Linked DNA regions of Homo sapiens: region 2 is linked to region 1. The links come from fine-mapping of genetic effects on gene expression. A gene starts in region 1. The other region holds a variant in brackets. All regions are shown on one strand. Distances are between the middles of the regions. Region 1 holds the start of EEIG2 (EEIG family member 2). Region 2 has its middle 27 kb from the start of EEIG2.

Evidence for each region. PIP is the estimated chance that this variant, and not a neighbour inherited with it, causes the effect. A credible set is the group of variants that fine-mapping cannot tell apart.
Region 2: its variant is the best candidate, but not a certain one, in a credible set for the expression of EEIG2 in tibial nerve (GTEx, PIP 0.85).

Annotation. Positions count from the first base shown.
Region 1 is chr1:108,556,947-108,565,281 of GRCh38, reverse strand. It overlaps EEIG2 (EEIG family member 2), which reads right to left and starts at 5,182. Exons shown (of 11, transcript NM_001010883.3): 1 at 4,717-5,182. The coding sequence starts at 4,853. RefSeq lists enhancers at 3,979-4,028, 4,492-4,591 and a silencer at 4,982-5,521.
Region 2 is chr1:108,528,840-108,537,174 of GRCh38, reverse strand. No RefSeq gene overlaps it. Among named protein-coding and RNA genes, the nearest start is that of EEIG2, 27 kb to the left of the region's middle. RefSeq lists an enhancer at 14-308 and a cis regulatory region at 2,975-3,550. The variant G/A (reference allele first, on the strand shown) is at 4,606.

The DNA.
Region 1 (8,335 bases):
TATGACTTTTGCACAATGATGAAATCGCCTAAGGATGCACTCCTCAGAACAGATCCTCATTGTTAACTGATACATGACTGTATTTTATTAGACAACAATTTAGCCTCAGTTGAATAGACCACCATAATCGTACAATGTATTTTCCAAATATTTTATTAACTATGGCATGTAAAAATCTGACAATTTACCCTGACCATTTTAATAATATTTATTACAAATAATTACCTTTTAGTCTTTATATTTTTCCAATCTCTTCATTGAAAACAATACCAAGAAAAACTGGCTTCTAAAATTAATTTTCACTAATAATCTTTATTTTTATTTATTTATTTTTGAGACAGAGTCTTACTCTGTTGCCCAGGCTGGAGTGCAGTGGTGGTGATCTCAGCTCACTGCAACCTCTGCCTCCCGGGTTCAAGCGATCCTCCTACCTCAGCCTCCTGAGTAGCTGGCATTACAGGTGCCCACCACCACATCTAGCTAATTTTTTGGTATGTTTTTTGTAGAAATGGGGTTTTGCCATGTTGCCCAGGCTGGTCTCAAACTCCTGAGCTCAACCAATCCGCGTGTCTCGGCCTCCCAAAGTGCTGGGATTTACAGGCATGAGCCACTATGCCTGGCCTTTTTTCACTAATAATCTTTAAAAGGGTAAAAACAATGTAAGGAAATTCTAAATAAGTTTAGTAAGCAGGCCTATATGGCTCCAATAGACAACATCTAAGAAATCCACATACCGCATAAATGCCTCCCACTACTCATCAGGCTGTCACCTCAAATGTAGCATGCTAAGCATACAACTTAACCCACTATATCTTCCACCACCATATGCAATATTCCCCTTAAACAAAACAAATAATTTTCCTGACTTCTTTACTTCTGTGGTGGCGTCAAGGCATCTGTCATAAGATTATCATTTATCAGTCACTTACATGAGACACCTCGGAGTTCAGGTTCTCATTAGCTCCTGCCTGGGTTATTTTAATAGCCTCCTAATTTGTCTCCCCATCTCTAATTTCCCCCCCACCCAACCTTGAATACAGATAGCATCAGCCTGTCAGCCAGGTGATACGCCACTTTAACCACACAACAACTCAGTTCAAGAATCTTAGGTTTAATTTTACCCTATGAGCAGTAGAAAGCAACTCTCATTTATAGAAAGAGAGTAGAAAGAAACTCTTTACAACAGTATTCAAAGTCTTTCTCTAATCTTATCTTCTGCTTCCATTCAACATGAACGCTCTGCAATCAGGCTGATCTATTATCAACTCCTATTGATGACTTGCTCAAGCTGTCCTCCCATCCTCACTTTGTCAATGCAAACTCATCCTCCCAGAGTGCTCCACAGAAATGCCAATGTGGTTGTCAGTAACCATTACAGTTGTAAATTAACTCTTTTGCTTTAGAATTTCAACAACACTCAATATATTGTCTGATCCATTGATTGGGCACTAAGTCACACTGTCTTCTACTGTCAAGCAATTATACATCTATGATCTAATTTCATTAGAAGTAATTCCCTTGTGGATCCTTATATTTGTTGTACTTCTCACAATCCCAGATGGAGAGCTATTAATAGAAACCTGGTAAATGCTCAACTAATACTTGGCCAAGAATAAATGATCTGCATGTTTAGTTGTTGTACAAAGCCAAATATATTAATATATATATCAAATACATATGACCTATATATATTTGGGTCTCTCTATTTATATCTATATATGCAATTTTCTGTGTGCCTCTAAGGCTTTTCTGTAGCAAGATGAGTATTATTTTATAAAGGTTCATCCATCAGGGAGTCTCCAAGACCAATCCTAAGTTTGGTGATTCATTAGGACTCACAGGACTCAGCATACAGTCCTACTCATGGCTAAGGTTTATTACAATGAAAAGATACAAAGTCGAATCAGCACACACTTAACTTCTCTAGAATTAAATTGTGATGTGCTGTCTACCAGGGAAACTCATTAGAGACTCAATGCCCAAAATTTGTATTAGGGCTGGTCACGTAGGCTGCCTAGCAAGAACCAAAATTCCAGATGGAATTTAGCATAAACCACTCCGTACAGTCTAGGCACAGTGAGCCACTCTTATCATTTACGTAAAGTTTTGTATCATGTATGGAACCATTTACCATTCAAGCTCCCAGATGCCAGCCAAGGGCCAGCCTTGTACATAGGCCTTTCTAAGAATAGCAGTCTTGGGCCTGCTATATTACCTCTTTTCTATGTAATTCATTTCATATTTTTACAGGAGAAATGTTACAGTGTTAACTACACCTGACTTTTAAGGGGCACATACAGCAATTTTTTAGAAGTTAAAATCTAGCGTTCAATTAGAGATGCACTGCCTTGACTGGCACCCACTAATTAAAAGTTCTGTGATTTTGAAATAATTCACTTCCTTTAGATATTTCAGATTTTCTTTTTTTTTTTTCTTGTAAAATGAGGTCTCTTTCTCAAACCAACAATTTTGTAGTTGTTAGGATAAAGGAATCAAATATAACATCTCAAGCAAATGGACCTTCTTGGACAAGTTCCTGGTCTCCTCTTTAAATGCCAACTGGGTGCTAAGGCACTGTTTAGGTGTTTTGGGCACATCATCTCACTAAATCCTCACACCACCACATGTCAGTGATGGTTTCTATTTTACATACAGAAGTTTTGGGACTCTAAGTAACCCATCCAGGTTTACCACAGTGGAACTGGGGTTTAGGCTTAGACTCACCGCATTCCAAATCCTTGCTCTTAGCTTTACACCAACTATCTCTACCTAATGTCAAAGGCACAGGCTCCTTATTGTGAGTCATTTCCCCCATACTATATGGCTTTTTGGTTTGGCTACACAGAGCACTATTCCTAATCTTACTTAAAATCAAATTGATCAAAGTCAAATTTTAATTGGAAGAAAAAGGGGTGAGTTTAACCCAAGATACTCAACTTTTTCATTTCTAAGTCTTGCGGAGTATACCCCTTGCTCATTAAAGTCATTAGGAAGCTCCCTATTCAGAAACTTTCATATATGGCACACGATTTATTCCTTTATCTGGCACCACCCTGTTTGAAGTTACACAGACCTGATCAGAATCTTGGCATCGCACTTACCAGCTGAGGGGACCTTAGGAAAGTTAGTTATGCTTTCTGAGCCTCAGTTTATTTATCTACGAAATGGAACCCCTACCTTATAGACTTGCTATGAGAATTAAATAAGATAATATATTTAGAAGCCAACACATATTTGCTGAATAAATGACTGCCTACAACGAAAGAATAAGTGACTTGTGGGAAGTAAGCCAAATAAACATAACTGAGGTAGGAAGGAAGCCCCGTAGACAAGTGCCCTGACCACCAGGTGTCACCACTGGCCCAGGAGCGCCAGTCTAACTGCCTGGCGTCGGGGGTGGCACCCTGCAGCAAAACAGTCTAGGCCTCAGGGCAAGACTGTCACCTGCACCAACAGGACCTTCACGAATCGGCTTAGGCTTTTCAACAAGTAAGAGATGGTCCAATATTTTTTTTGCACCAAAATAGGTTACATTCTTCTCTTACAGGTGTTTAAAATACTTAGCTGAATATCCACTGATGTGTCACCACAGTTTAATTTTAAAAACTGTCTTCGGCAAACTATTAATTTCATATATCCTTTGGTTTAGCCAACTAGACATTTTCTGGCTTCCATAGGCTTCAATATTGCCCCAAAGACAAGTTTCTAGCCCCAATTCCACAATCCAGTGACATTATTTCCTTTATACTATAAATGGGATGACGGAATTTTTTTTAAGTAGAATATTTTTAGGGCAGAAATAAAGCCTAAGACCAGTATATATGGGCAAAATAACATTAACTTTTAACCCTTCTTGATCTCAGGAACTCAAAAGTTCATTTAAAAAATTGTTTTCTCTCTCTATGTATATATTTTAAAGAAAGCACCTTAGGGTACATCTGTCAACCTGTGAGTAGCTCTGAAATTACTCAAGAAACACTGCCACACCTATTATTAATGCCACACCTATTATTTAATAGCTTCATTCTGTAACCTGCTAATGCCTCTCTCTGGGAGTGCCCAGGGGCTCATTTTAAAATGAGGGCAGGGCCTGGGCTCCCCATCTGGCTCTAAGCCCTCCCACAAGGAGACCTACTAGTGGCCACTTCAAGACTAATTCATCCAGCATTAGCGCCTAACTGGAGACGCCGCTCTCTGATGAGGCACAGACCGTTGTCTCGTCTGCCAGGAGCACTTGACTCAAGTCAAGCCTGGCCAGGCCTACCCCAGCCTCAGAGTGGGTGGCCAAGTCCCCTTGTAATCTACAAGGGAGAAGGAATTGTGCTAAGCACAGGTTTCTGTTCAGAGCTGGGCTCTTGGAACTCCTGCAGTTTGGGTTATTTTAGTTTTTAACAGCTCAAGTTCTACTTTGCATTTCACAAATATGGAAATGTCTTAAGAGAAAACAGAAGCATCCTCCCTCTCTGGCCATTGCTCCCATTCCTAGAGGATTTGGGAGGGAAGAGCAGATACCAGGCACCATCTGGAGTCAGGAGCGCAGGAACCAAGGCCAGCTGAGAAGAACCCATTTGCAAAGCACTTTGCAGATCAATAAATTCGACTGATTTTAGAGCGGTCCCTAGGGAAAGGCGAGCAAATGGGCCAAGGAGAGATGCTGCCCATCCAACAAGCCCTGGCCAAGCAGAAAGGGGCGAGGCGGCGCGGGAGGCGAGTTACCTGGAGGACTCGGCGGTGAAGCTGCCGCCGTCCAGCAGCCGCATCTTGCAGAAGAGGACCCCATTGACGAAGGGCACTGAGGAGAGCTCCTCGAGCTCGAAGTCCACCTTAAACTTAAACTTCTTCTTCTTCATCATCGTGAGAGCCAGGCGCCTGCAAGCTGGGCGCACGGCCGGGCGCCGCCGCCTCAGCTTGGCCGAGCCCCGGATCAGCCCAGCCCCATGGCCGGGGCCGCGAGCTGTGCGCGGGGGCGCGGCCGGGGGGCGCCGCAGGCCGGCCGCGGCCGGGGCCGCTGCCGCCGCCTCTCGCGGCAGCCTGGGCCGGAACGCGGCGGCAGCTGCGGCGCGGACCCCGACCGCCCGCGGGGAGCGGTCGTGCTGCAGCTCGCCCGGGGAGGTGAGCGCCCTTTTGGTGCTCAGCTCGCCGCCGCCGCCGCCGCCGCCTCCGCCGCCGCTGCCGCCCGTCTGGGAGTCGGGAGAGGCGAGGCTCGAGGAACCGCCGCCTCAGCGCCTCGGGGGTCGGGGGCGCCCCCAGCGGCCGCGGCCTGCAGCGCACGGCGGGGCGGAAGCCGGAGGGAGGGCGGGGACTTTGTGGGCGGGCGCGGGCTTGGCCGCGGACTCTAACCCGCGACGGCAGTTAGCACGTCACGCCTTTCTGGGGTTAAAAAAAGACAAACCCGACAGAGAAAGCTTCCTTCTACCGCTTCCTCTCCGCCTTTCTTTTCAGTTTTTGCACCGCCTCCTTTCTCCCCCACCCCCTCCAGTGGTTTCTTTCCTTTGGGTTTGAGAGCCATGGGTTAATAGAGGCAATTAAAATCTCAGCGTTGTTTTGGTCAAATTGAAATCCTAAAACTAAAATTTCCGTTAGGTACTCTAAATTCACGAGCCTTCAAATATAAAAGGAAGATAAGGTAGGAAAAAGGAAAATGATGTGCTGAGGGACTATCAAGGGCCCAGGCACCGTACTGCTGCAGGCGCTTTCTCTGGGGTATAGCTTATCTAGTTCCTGTCACCCAGGACAAAAGATAAAAGAGCAAAGAAGCAGTTAAAATAATACCCTCCCTTTAAAAATTTGTCTGTCTATACTGAGAACTGAAATGCTTAAAATCAAATTCTGCAGGCAGTCTGGCATGGCTACGCTGTAATCCCAGCTACTCGGGAGGCTGAGGAGGGAGGTTAGCCTGAGCCGGGGAAGCGGAGCTTGCAATGATCGGAGATCGCGCCACTGCACTCTAGCCTGGGCAACAGAACAAGCCCCTGTCTTAAAAACAAAACAAAATCTTCAGAGCAGGCTTAAAAAAAAATCTCCCTAGGGGAATAACAATTACCTGCCTTCTGTAATCATGCATGTATTGTTACAATGAATGTTACAAAGTTGGTTACGTGATGTTCATGTTTTTAAACTGAGTTATTGTCATTTTCACTCAGATTCTGCCACAGTAATTCTGAAAGGGTTTAATTGAAAATATTTTCTTTCTCAGTTTACTCGTTTACTCATTCATTCATATAAAAAAATTGCTTAAAATGTCAATCATCGGCTAGACCCCATAACCAAAAGCCAATAACTGCCCTCAAGAATTTTACAATCTAGTGAGGAAGACATGTTTAGACAGGTCATTAAAAAAACACAACCTAGCACCAAGCTATGTAGAACTCAGAGAAGCAATTAATTGAAGTTAATCAGTTTTCTGAATTTCAAAGGATGAAAATGATTTGGGACAAAGTGGGGTAAGTTGTTCTAGGAGAAATAAATTAAAAAAAAAAAAAGATTCAGAGGCAGGTTCGGGGGTGGGGATTTGGTAATGGATAAAGCTTCTTACCCTGCAGGACAGGGGGCAAAGACAGTGAGATGCATTTGGGGACTTTGAGATTTGTCATTTAGAGCACTGGATGAATGTTAATTTCATTGACTGAACATTGAAAGCAAGAGGAGGGCAGGTTGGGAATGGAAGAGATAATGAGTCTTTATGGGATCTGCTTGCAGTACATCTAGGGAGAGAGAGGCAGCCTTAGCTCATAAAAATGCATTGGCAATTGAAAATATACATTTGGGAATTGAGGTAATCGCTGATGGCTGAAGCCCAAAAGGTGGATAAGGATGAGTTACTCTGAAGAATATTTAAAGGGTAGGCAAAGAGGAGATCGTGAAGGTGCCTAAGAACAAGCAGTCAAGAGAAAAAGGAGATGAAGAAAGAGATGGCCTGGAAGCCCAGACGGTTTTAATCATGTAACATTCGTAGTTACAAAGTTCTATTGTGTGCCAGGCACTATGCTGGGTACTAGAGATGCAAATGAATAAGACATAGGGGCTTATAAAGGAATGGAGAAAAACAGAGATATGCAAACAGATCAACTAAAGTGTGTGTGTGTGGTATGTGAGTATGTGTGTGTGAGAGAGAGAAGAGAGAGAGAAAGAAAGAGAGAGAGCAATCTGTGATCCATGTAGGACAGAGGACCATTTCAAGAGAGTGCTGCAGAGCAGTCCCAGAGGATTTGGACTGAAAAGAAGCTACTGAATTGAAGGTCTAGGAGGTCATTGGTAATCTTGGCAAGAGAAGTCATCATAAAAGATAGTGACAAAGTAAGATGAAAAGTGACAAAGTAAGTGAAAAGATGACAGTGAAAAGTAAGATAGTGACAAAGTAATGTGGGTAAATAAAAATTATATTTTTATTGATGTTTTTCTGATTTTTTTGTCAGCGAATGAAAAGAGAGAGAGAATGGTGACCAGAGGAGGACAGTTCAATCTTTTTCAATAACATTCAGGAACTATCCAATATTTATTGAGTGTCTATTAGGTGCCAAGCACCTTAATAGGTCCTATGGATTTGAAATGCCGTCCCTGTCTTAGATCTCACGGTCTACTGGAGGACACAGAGAAGTAAGCAGGCAGTTGCAGTACAATGTAACACTGAGTGCTGTCTGTGTATGATGGTGAGTGGAGACTGCTGTGGGAGACTATAAAAGCTAACAGGGATAAGTAGTAGGTTTATGGAATGCCTTCTAGGGTAAGTGAAGCCTGAATTCAGGCCTTTAAGCTGAGGCCTGAATAATGAGCATGGGTGGGGAGCAGTTTCCAGGAAGGAGGTAGTGTCTGTGCAGAGGCTCAAAGGAAGAGAGACCATGTTGCAGAGGGAACTGAAATTAGTTCTGTCTGGCTGCAACTTAGAGTTGGGTACAGTGACAGGGGTTAACAAAGAGCCATTGAAGTTTTAAAGAAGAAGCATGATATATTCAGATTTACATTTTGTAAAGCTCTTCTACTTTATAAAATGGAAGATAGGAGACAGTCTGTTACTGTTTTTTAGACTCATGGTTTGATTATTAAACCCCTGATAGGAGTCATAGTCAAGGCAGGAAACAGATATCATATTCAATGTGTTTAAATGGGGAAAATTTAATGAAAGGACTCTTCACAGAGTTGACAGGGTAAGGGACCCACAGTCTGGTGAGAAGTTGAAAGGAAGAAGGGATAAATATCCTGATTTCTCTCACCTCCTACTTTCTGATCTCTTGGTGGTGCTTCCCATGATCCAAAACCAACCAAGGCCAGAGGGTAGAGGGGCTCGGAACATGCAGTTCATACAGGACAGACTCCTGGGGCACAAAGTAGGGCACTG
Region 2 (8,335 bases), 28 kb after region 1:
GGTGAATGGAAAAAAAGAATAGGGGATCAGATGTGGCAAGATTTTACAGGCCAGGCCTGGAAGTGTGTTCTTTTTCTACCTACATTCCATTGACTACAACAGTCATATGGCTGTACCTAACTGCAAGGGAGGCTGGGATATGTAGTTCAACTGTATGTCCAGTAGGAAAACAGAAATAATTTAGTAAATCATTAACCAGTTTCTGGCCATATGGCCATAAACTTGAAAATACACAATCACGCTCTCTCCCTCCTCTCCCTCCTCTCCCTCCTCTCCCTCTCCCTCTCCCTCTCCCTCTCCCTCTCCCGTCTCCCTCCTCTCCCTCCTCTCCCTCCTCTCCCTCCTCTCCCTCCTCTCCCTCTCTTTCCACGGTCTCCCTCTGATGCAGAGCTGAAGCTGGACTGTACTGCTGCCATCTCCGCTCACTGCAACCCCCCTGCCTGGTTCTCCTGCCTCAGCCTGCCGAGTGCCTGCGACTGCAGGCGCGCGCCACCACGCCTGACTGGTTTTCGTATTTTTTTGGTGGAGACGGGGTTTCGCTGTGTTGGCCGGGCTGGTCTCCAGCTCCTAACCACAAGTGATCCGCCAGCCTCGGCTTCCCGAGGTGCCAGGATTGCAGACAGAGTGTCGTTCACTCAGTGCTCAATGGTGCCCAGGCTGGAGTGCAGTGGCGTGATCTTGGCTCACTACAACCTCCACCTCCCAGCCGCCTGCCTTGGCCTCCCAAAGTGCCGAGATTGCAGCCTCTGCCCGGCCGCCACCCTATCTGGGAAGTGAGGAGCGTCTCTGCCTGGCCACCATCCCATCTAGGAAGTGAGGAGCGTCTCTGCCTGGCCGCCCATCGTCTGAGATGTGGGGAGCGCCTCTGCCCTGCTGCCCCGTCTGGGATGTGAGGAGCGTCTCTGCCAGGCCGCCCCGTCTGAGAAGTGAGGAGCCCCTCCGCCCGGCAGCCACCCCGTCTGGGAAGTGAGGAGCGTCTCCGCCTGGCAGCCACCCTGTCCGGGAGGGAGGTGGGGGTCAGCCCCCGCCCGGCCAGCCGCCCCGTCAGGGAGAGAGGTGGGGGGGTCAGCCACCCGCCCGGCCAGCCGCCCCGTCCGGGAGGTGAGGGGTGCTTCTGCCCGGCCGCCCCTACTGGGAAGTGAGGAGCCCCTCTGCCCGGCTGCCACCCCGGCTGGGAGGTGTACCCAACAGCTCATTGAGAACGGGCCAGGATGACAATGGCGGTTTTGTAGAATAGAAAGGGGGGAAAAGTGGGGAAAAGATTGAGAAATTGGATGGTTGTCGTGTCTGTGTAGAAAGAGGTAGACATGGGAGACTTTTCCTTTTGTGCTGTACTAAGAAAAATTCTTCTTCCTTGGGATCCTGTTGATCTGTGACCTTGCCCCCAACCCTGTGCTCTCTGAAACATGTGCTGTGTCCACTCAGGGTTAAATGGATTAAGGGCGGTGCAAGATGTGCTTTGTTAAACAGATGCTTGAAGGCAGCATGCTCGTTAAAAGTCATCACCACTCCCTAATCTCAAGTACCCAGGGACACAAACACTGCGGAAGGCCGCAGGGTCCTCTGCCTAGGAAAACCAGAGACCTCTGTTCACATGTTTATCTGCTGACCTTCCCTCCACTATTGTCCTGTGACCCTGCCAAATCCCCCTCTGCGAGAAACACCCAAGAATGATCAATTAAAAAAAAAAAAAGAAAAAAAAAAAGAAAATACACAATCACACATTTACAATTTGTGGTAAATGCTGTAAAGTTAAATAATATATATGAATGAGAATAGTTGGCTGGGGGCAGAGAGCTATAATACTTCAGGAAAATCCTTTGCTATGAGATAATATTTAAGCTGAGACCTAACAAATGAGGACAAGAGTGGTAGGAGGAAGAATCTCCTAGGCATGTATGAAGGTCCTGAGGTAGGAAAGAGCTTAGAGAATCCAAGGACCTGCAAGAAGACCAATGCAGCTGAACCTGAAAAGAGAGTTATGAAACAAGGCTAGACAGGTAGGCAAGGCCCATATCATGCAGTGCTCCATAGAATGTGGTAAAGAGTTAGCGTTTAATCGCAATAGCAGTGGAAGGACATAGTATGATTAGTGTTTTTTAGTATTTAATGCTAATAGCGATGGAAAGGCATGATGTGGTATTTCTAACAGAGTGTTAAAATGGGACTCTTCCTGATTCACTGCAGCTGAGGGCCTAATTACCCCCACATTTCAAAGTGCAGTGAGTGAGATCATCTATGGCAGAATTATGAAAGAGGTGCTGAAACCACTTCTGTGGATCTTCACCCCTCTGCCTATCTTAAGGCTATATAGGAACTAAAATTGAAAAGGCCAAGGAGATAGTTGAGTTTTGGAAATTCCCATTGAAAGAATCTCCAATGCATCATGTCTTCCCTACAACCCCATGAGAGATTGGTAGGACAGGTATTTTTACCTTGCCTCAGGTGTGCTAGTGAGGGGTGCTCCAAGGAGACCACATGGAAGGTTTGACCTGTAGCCTCTGGAGTCCATGGGTCACAGAAATACCTGGTAAATAGCTTACTGTCATCAAAGTAAGGAACTGCATTTGGAAAGTTAACTAGTATTGACAGTTTGCATTGGCAGCTCCAAGGTATGAAATCCTTGGGAGGAATATATACGTGCGGTCATTTAAAAGGGGATCATGCTTAAGAGAACTTCTGTCCACACCAGACAACCTTAGCAGACAGAGGCTGGAGACGTGTCTTCAGATTCAGAAGCTGAACGTGGGGCTGGAGTGGGTATGTAAGCATCCAGCTAAGGTCGAGGCTTTGCCTATTTCAATGAGCTCCAATCAGCGGAACTTACAGAGGACTATCTAGGGTGAGGAGATCGAGACCATCCTGGCTAACACGGTGAAACCCCGTCTCTACTAAAAAATACAAAAAAATTAGCCGGGCGTGGTGACGGGCGCCTGTAGTCCCAGCTACTCGGGAGGCTGAGGCAGGAGAATGGCGTGAACCCAGGAGGCGGAGCTTGCGGTGAGCTGATGCGCCACCGCACTCCAGCCTGGGCGACAAAGCGAGACTCCGTTTCAAAAAAAAAAAAAAAAAAAAAAAAAGTCCTGAGAGTAAGAGTCAGCTTTAAACACCTGCCACGGCCAGAGTCTGTCAATGGTAGATTACGCCTGTGTCTGTCACACAAGATCTTTTCTGTTTCTTATCTCTCTTTCCTGGCCCCTCCAACCTTGGCTGGCTGAAGCGGCTGAGACAATGAAGAGGAGGAGGCCAGGAGAGAGGAGCCAGCCCCACCACAAAGGCCGCCAGCCCTAGCAGGTTTGGGGTTTGGGTGGGTGGTGGGGAGGAAGCATTAACTGTAATGAAATTCAGTGTTTCAACCAACACGCTGAACTGGGCATTTTTATTATTGAAATGAGACCATTTTGCGACTGAAAGAGAGAATTCGTATTAACTGACAGCACCAAAAAAAAGTCAAGGGACTTGCCCCAGGCGCCAGGAAAGAACCTGTCCTGCAGAGCCGGTTTGATCAGGCTGTTGGGAAGAAAAGAATAAAGTTGTTTTCTGTTCTCACTTCAAGGTTTCTGGTTCTGTATAAAAGTTACTTGTTTAAACAATCACACTGGTTGCTGTGTGGAAATCAGACCGGAGGATGGCAGGTGTGAGTGCAAAGGGTCAGTGAGGAGGGGACAGCTGGCTCCTCCACTTCCTAGCTGTGTGATATTGGGAAAGTCAGTTAACTTCTCTGTGCATCAGTTTCTTCATCTTCAAGTGGTGCTAGAATGCTTTATAGGGTTATTGAGAAGAATAAATCAGCTAATGCATTTAAAGCACTTAGAGGGGTACCTGACCCATAGTAAGGATTATAAGGTGTTTGCTACTATTTTTATTTAAAAAATTCTGATTGTAGCAGCCCCAATGTAAGACAGTGTTGACTTGGACTACCTTTAACCAGAGAGCGTGAAAAAGCTCATGATGTATTTTAGAATGATATTCAACAGGGCTTTGTGGGGGATGATTGGATATGGAGACTGAGGCAGAGGGAGAGGACAAGAATCGCTCCCAGGGTTCTGGTTTGGACATCTGGTTGGAATTGAGATGACTGAGTTTGAGCAGGACAAGAATGGTATACAAGCTTAATAGAGATTCCTGGTTACTGATGCTTCAAAAAGTATGCATTTTATTTTATTTTTTAGAGACAGGGTCTCACTGTTGTCTGGGCTGGAGTGCAGTGATGCAATCATAGTTCACTGCAGCCTTGAGCTCTTTGGCTCAAGTGATCCTGCCACTTCAGCCTCTAGAGTAGCTGCGACTACCGGTGTGTGCACATGTCCGGCTAATTTTTGCATTTTTTTAATTGTAGAGATGGGTTCTCACTATGTTGCCCAGGCTGGTCTTGAACTTCTGGCCTCAAGCCATCCTCCTGCCTTGGCCTCCCAAAGTGTTGGAATTACGGGCATGAGCCACTGTGCCTGGCCAGAAAACTGTGATTTAATAGCATTGAAAGCTCTGAGCATCACGGGAGTGATTTTTCTGAAGTGTAAAGGCTCTAAAACAAAGTACTTGTTTTGCTAGGTCACCTTCCGATCCTTTGTCCCACTCTTTTAGATAATGGTGCAGGGGGAGTCT[G/A]GGTAATTATATAATAATATGGTTTTCGTTTTGAGAACCAAGAATGACCTCAACAGGCAATCAGTCCTTGCATAATAAACACTGTTAGAAAATAAATGGCATAATATTAACAGTTCTAAAACTAAAGTTACTGTCTTTGACAGATGTCTTCTAAAATTGTTATATGTCTAATAAACTTAGTAAAAAATATATTTATCCAGTGGGGACTGCAATATAGTGACAGGCCTTTTTTTTCAAAAGCACACACATAAATGCATGGATAAAATTTTAGTGCTTATGTTTTAAATACCTTGAATGGCTTGTCACCTTACCTTTGCTATTGGAAGTTGATCTTTGAAACTAAGGTAACAGCCTGATTCCCATCCTAAAGATATGCTGTGGAGATATAGAAACACTGTCCTTTGGTATTAATTTTCTATTTTCTTCCCTACCCTCCTGGGATACAGTGTTGAGAATCAAAATTTCTCTTTCTCCTGAGGTCTTGCCAAAAGCTGTCTTTATTACCCCCTCCTGCCTTGCTAGGGGTTGTGGAAGAGCATTTATGTTAGATGCTAGGGCTGACCAATGAACAAGTGGCTGAGGGCCTTTTTTATTCTCAGTCTTTAAATTTTGTAGAAACTATAAAAGTGACTCGAGTAACTCTTTGTAGACTTGCATATCCCCTCATCAGAACTTTCCTTTTAGTTGTCTTTCTTGACAGCACTCCACTAGGAGAGGCTGGGTCCTTCAGGGCTCTGTGAGTGGGAAGAGCAGGGTGTTCTCTGAGACCTTGGTGTCCATGGTCACACCATCCACCTGGCCTAGGGCCTCATCTGGCTTAATGACTACAGTATTCTTGATGTAGCAAGTATTCTTTTAGGTAAAAATAATAAATCTCCTGCAGTTTAGTGACAGATGTTTGGTTTGGCATGTTACTCTCGCTTTTGGCAAACTCATACGGTGGCGAAGCCAATCCACATGATCCAGAAGGGAGAAAATAAGATCAAATGTTAAAATGCTATACTAATCCCCTAGCAGATAACGGATGGGAGAGGAGGCCTTGGCTTTCAAACAGTGACTATCTTAGATAATAGAGGAAAAATTTGAAATCCATACAGGTACATATCAGGAAGTTAAAGTACCTAAAACCAAATGTTTAATGTTGTTATATCTCCTTTTATTTTTACAGCCATAGTGATCAGCTTGTAACATCCACTTTGAAAATTTCCAAGGCCAACATCATCTCAGTCATGAAGTATGGTACTTTGGGGAATCTATTGGATATTTGTTTATGTACTAGAGTGAACCTGGAACTGCTTATTCCTTTGCTTCCTTAAAAATGTATTTTCTAAAGTCAGCTGATTAGCAAAAAAAAGAAATAAAATTTATTGTCTTTTAATTTTCATCAAAGTAATTGTATACATAGTAAAAATAAGGTAGTGCTGAGGAGTTTATACTGAAAAACAACAGCTGTCTGCCACACTTCCCAGTCCCACTTTCCAGAGGAAAACCGCCTCCCTTTTTTGATAAAAAAAATTACATATTTTTGAGACGGGTTTTACTCTGTTGCCTAGGCTGGAGTGCAGTAGTGTGACCATGGCTCACTATAGCCTTGACCTTCCAAGCTCAGTGGATCCTTCCACCTCGGCCCCTTGGGTAGCTGGGACTACAGGCATGTGCCCCCGTGCCTGGCTAATTTTTTCATTTTTTGTAGAGACAGGGTCTCACTATGTTGCCCAGGCTGGTCTCGAACTCCTGGGCTCAAGCGATCCTCCCACTTCTGCCTCCCAAAGTGCTGGGATTATAGGTATGAGCCACCGTGCCTGACCAAGATTAAAATTTTTAATCACTGATTTTTATCCCTTTATTCCTTTAAACTGCCTCCTGCAAAGTTACAACTGAAAGTAATTTGGTGTGTATCTTTCAAGACTTTATTTCTATGTATTGTACTTATTCTCTATAATAAAAACAAGGATTTAGCTACCCTCTCCCAGTTTTTGATAGCTATTATTATAGTTTTATTCTTGGTTGCTTTTATACCTTTAAATAAAACACTTAAACCTCTAGTTTTTGTCCCATCAGCCATATATAATACCTCTTGACTCCCAGGCTATATTTATATAATCATGATTATTTATTGGATACTTAGTATGGCGACAGGCACTGTTCTAAGTGCTCAGTGAACAAAACAGAGCTCTCAGGCTCATTGGCACTTACATGGTAGTTGGGGGTAGGGGTGTTCAGATACAGAAATTATATAGTAGACATTGATGGGGTGTTCAGATACAGAAATTATATAGTAGACATTGATACATTCAAAATTAAAAAAAGTAAGACAGGAAAAGATAGTTCAGGAATCTGGAAAGTGGGAATAATGATTTTAAATCGGATGGTCAGATTTAACTTCATTGAGAGATGATGTTTGAGCAGACATAAAGGCAGGGAGGATGTTATTCATGTAAGCATTTTAGGGAAGAGAGTTCCAGGCAGAGGCAACAGCAAAGGCTGCAAGGAAGGAGTGTGCCTGGCACATTCAAGGATTACAGGTGGCTAGTAGGGCTAGAATGGAGTGAGCAAAGGGCAGCGTGGTGGAGGATGAGGTCAGAGAGATAACAGGGTGAGATGATATAGGGCTATGTGGATCAATATAAAGAATTTTTGCTTTTACGTTGGGTACAATGAGAAGCCATTGCAAGGTTTTGAGCAGAGTGACACGGTCTGACTTGTGGATATGTATAGCTTCCATGTTGAGAACTGTAGGAAGGCATAGGGGGAGGCAGGGGAGTAGTCGGGAGGCTTTTACAGTCGTCAAGACAGAGATGCTGGTAGTGCTGACCAGGAGATACTCGTGGAGTTGGTGAGAAGAGGTCACATTCTGGAGATATGCTGATGAGACTATTGGCCCTTTTCTCCTTTCTTCCACCTTCTACCCTTCCACCTACCATAATATTCTGTCAAGAATATTATTATTATTTTTTTCTCCTGAAACAGGGTCTTGCTCTGTTACCCAGGCTGGAGTGCAGTGGCGTGATCTTGGCTTACTGCAACCTCCACCTTCTGGGCTCAAGCAATCCTCCTGCCTCAGCTTCCCAAATAGCTGGGACTATAGGCAAGTTCCATCATGCCAGGCTAATTTTTGTATTTTTTGTAGAGATGAGATTTCACCATGTTTCCCAGGCTGGTCTTGAACTCCTGAGTTCAAATGATCCACCCACCCTGGCCTCCCAAAGTGTTGGCATTCCAGGCGTGAGCCATCGGGTCTGGCCTAGACTTTTGTTTTTATGTTTTCAGAGTTAATGCCAAATTCTTTCTTTATTGTAACCCATCTTTTATAAACTGTTGCTTACAGTTTGATTCTGGGAGTTAAATATCAACATAACCCCCCAATTTATGTTATTATGACTATTTAATTAATATTCATTGCATAGGCAAATAATATGCAAAAATTACATTTCCTTTTCTATAGGTCCAAGACCATGACCTCTGGGCTCTTTGAAGAAGGATATTTTAGAGTCTAAATTAAATAAATTCTCTTTCATAGTTACAGAAATTGCTGAAAATTGTGCTACATTTTAGCTGGCTTCATATTTGTATCTTGACTTTTCTATATAATTCTTGTCGTTTTTTTTTTTCCTGGAATTTCCAATTATCTTTCTTTTATCTTGCTGAGAGAAGAAACATATGTTTTCTTCACCATGTCACTGATATCATCTATTTTCATGGTCATTCTATGTTTTGTGTAAACTACATT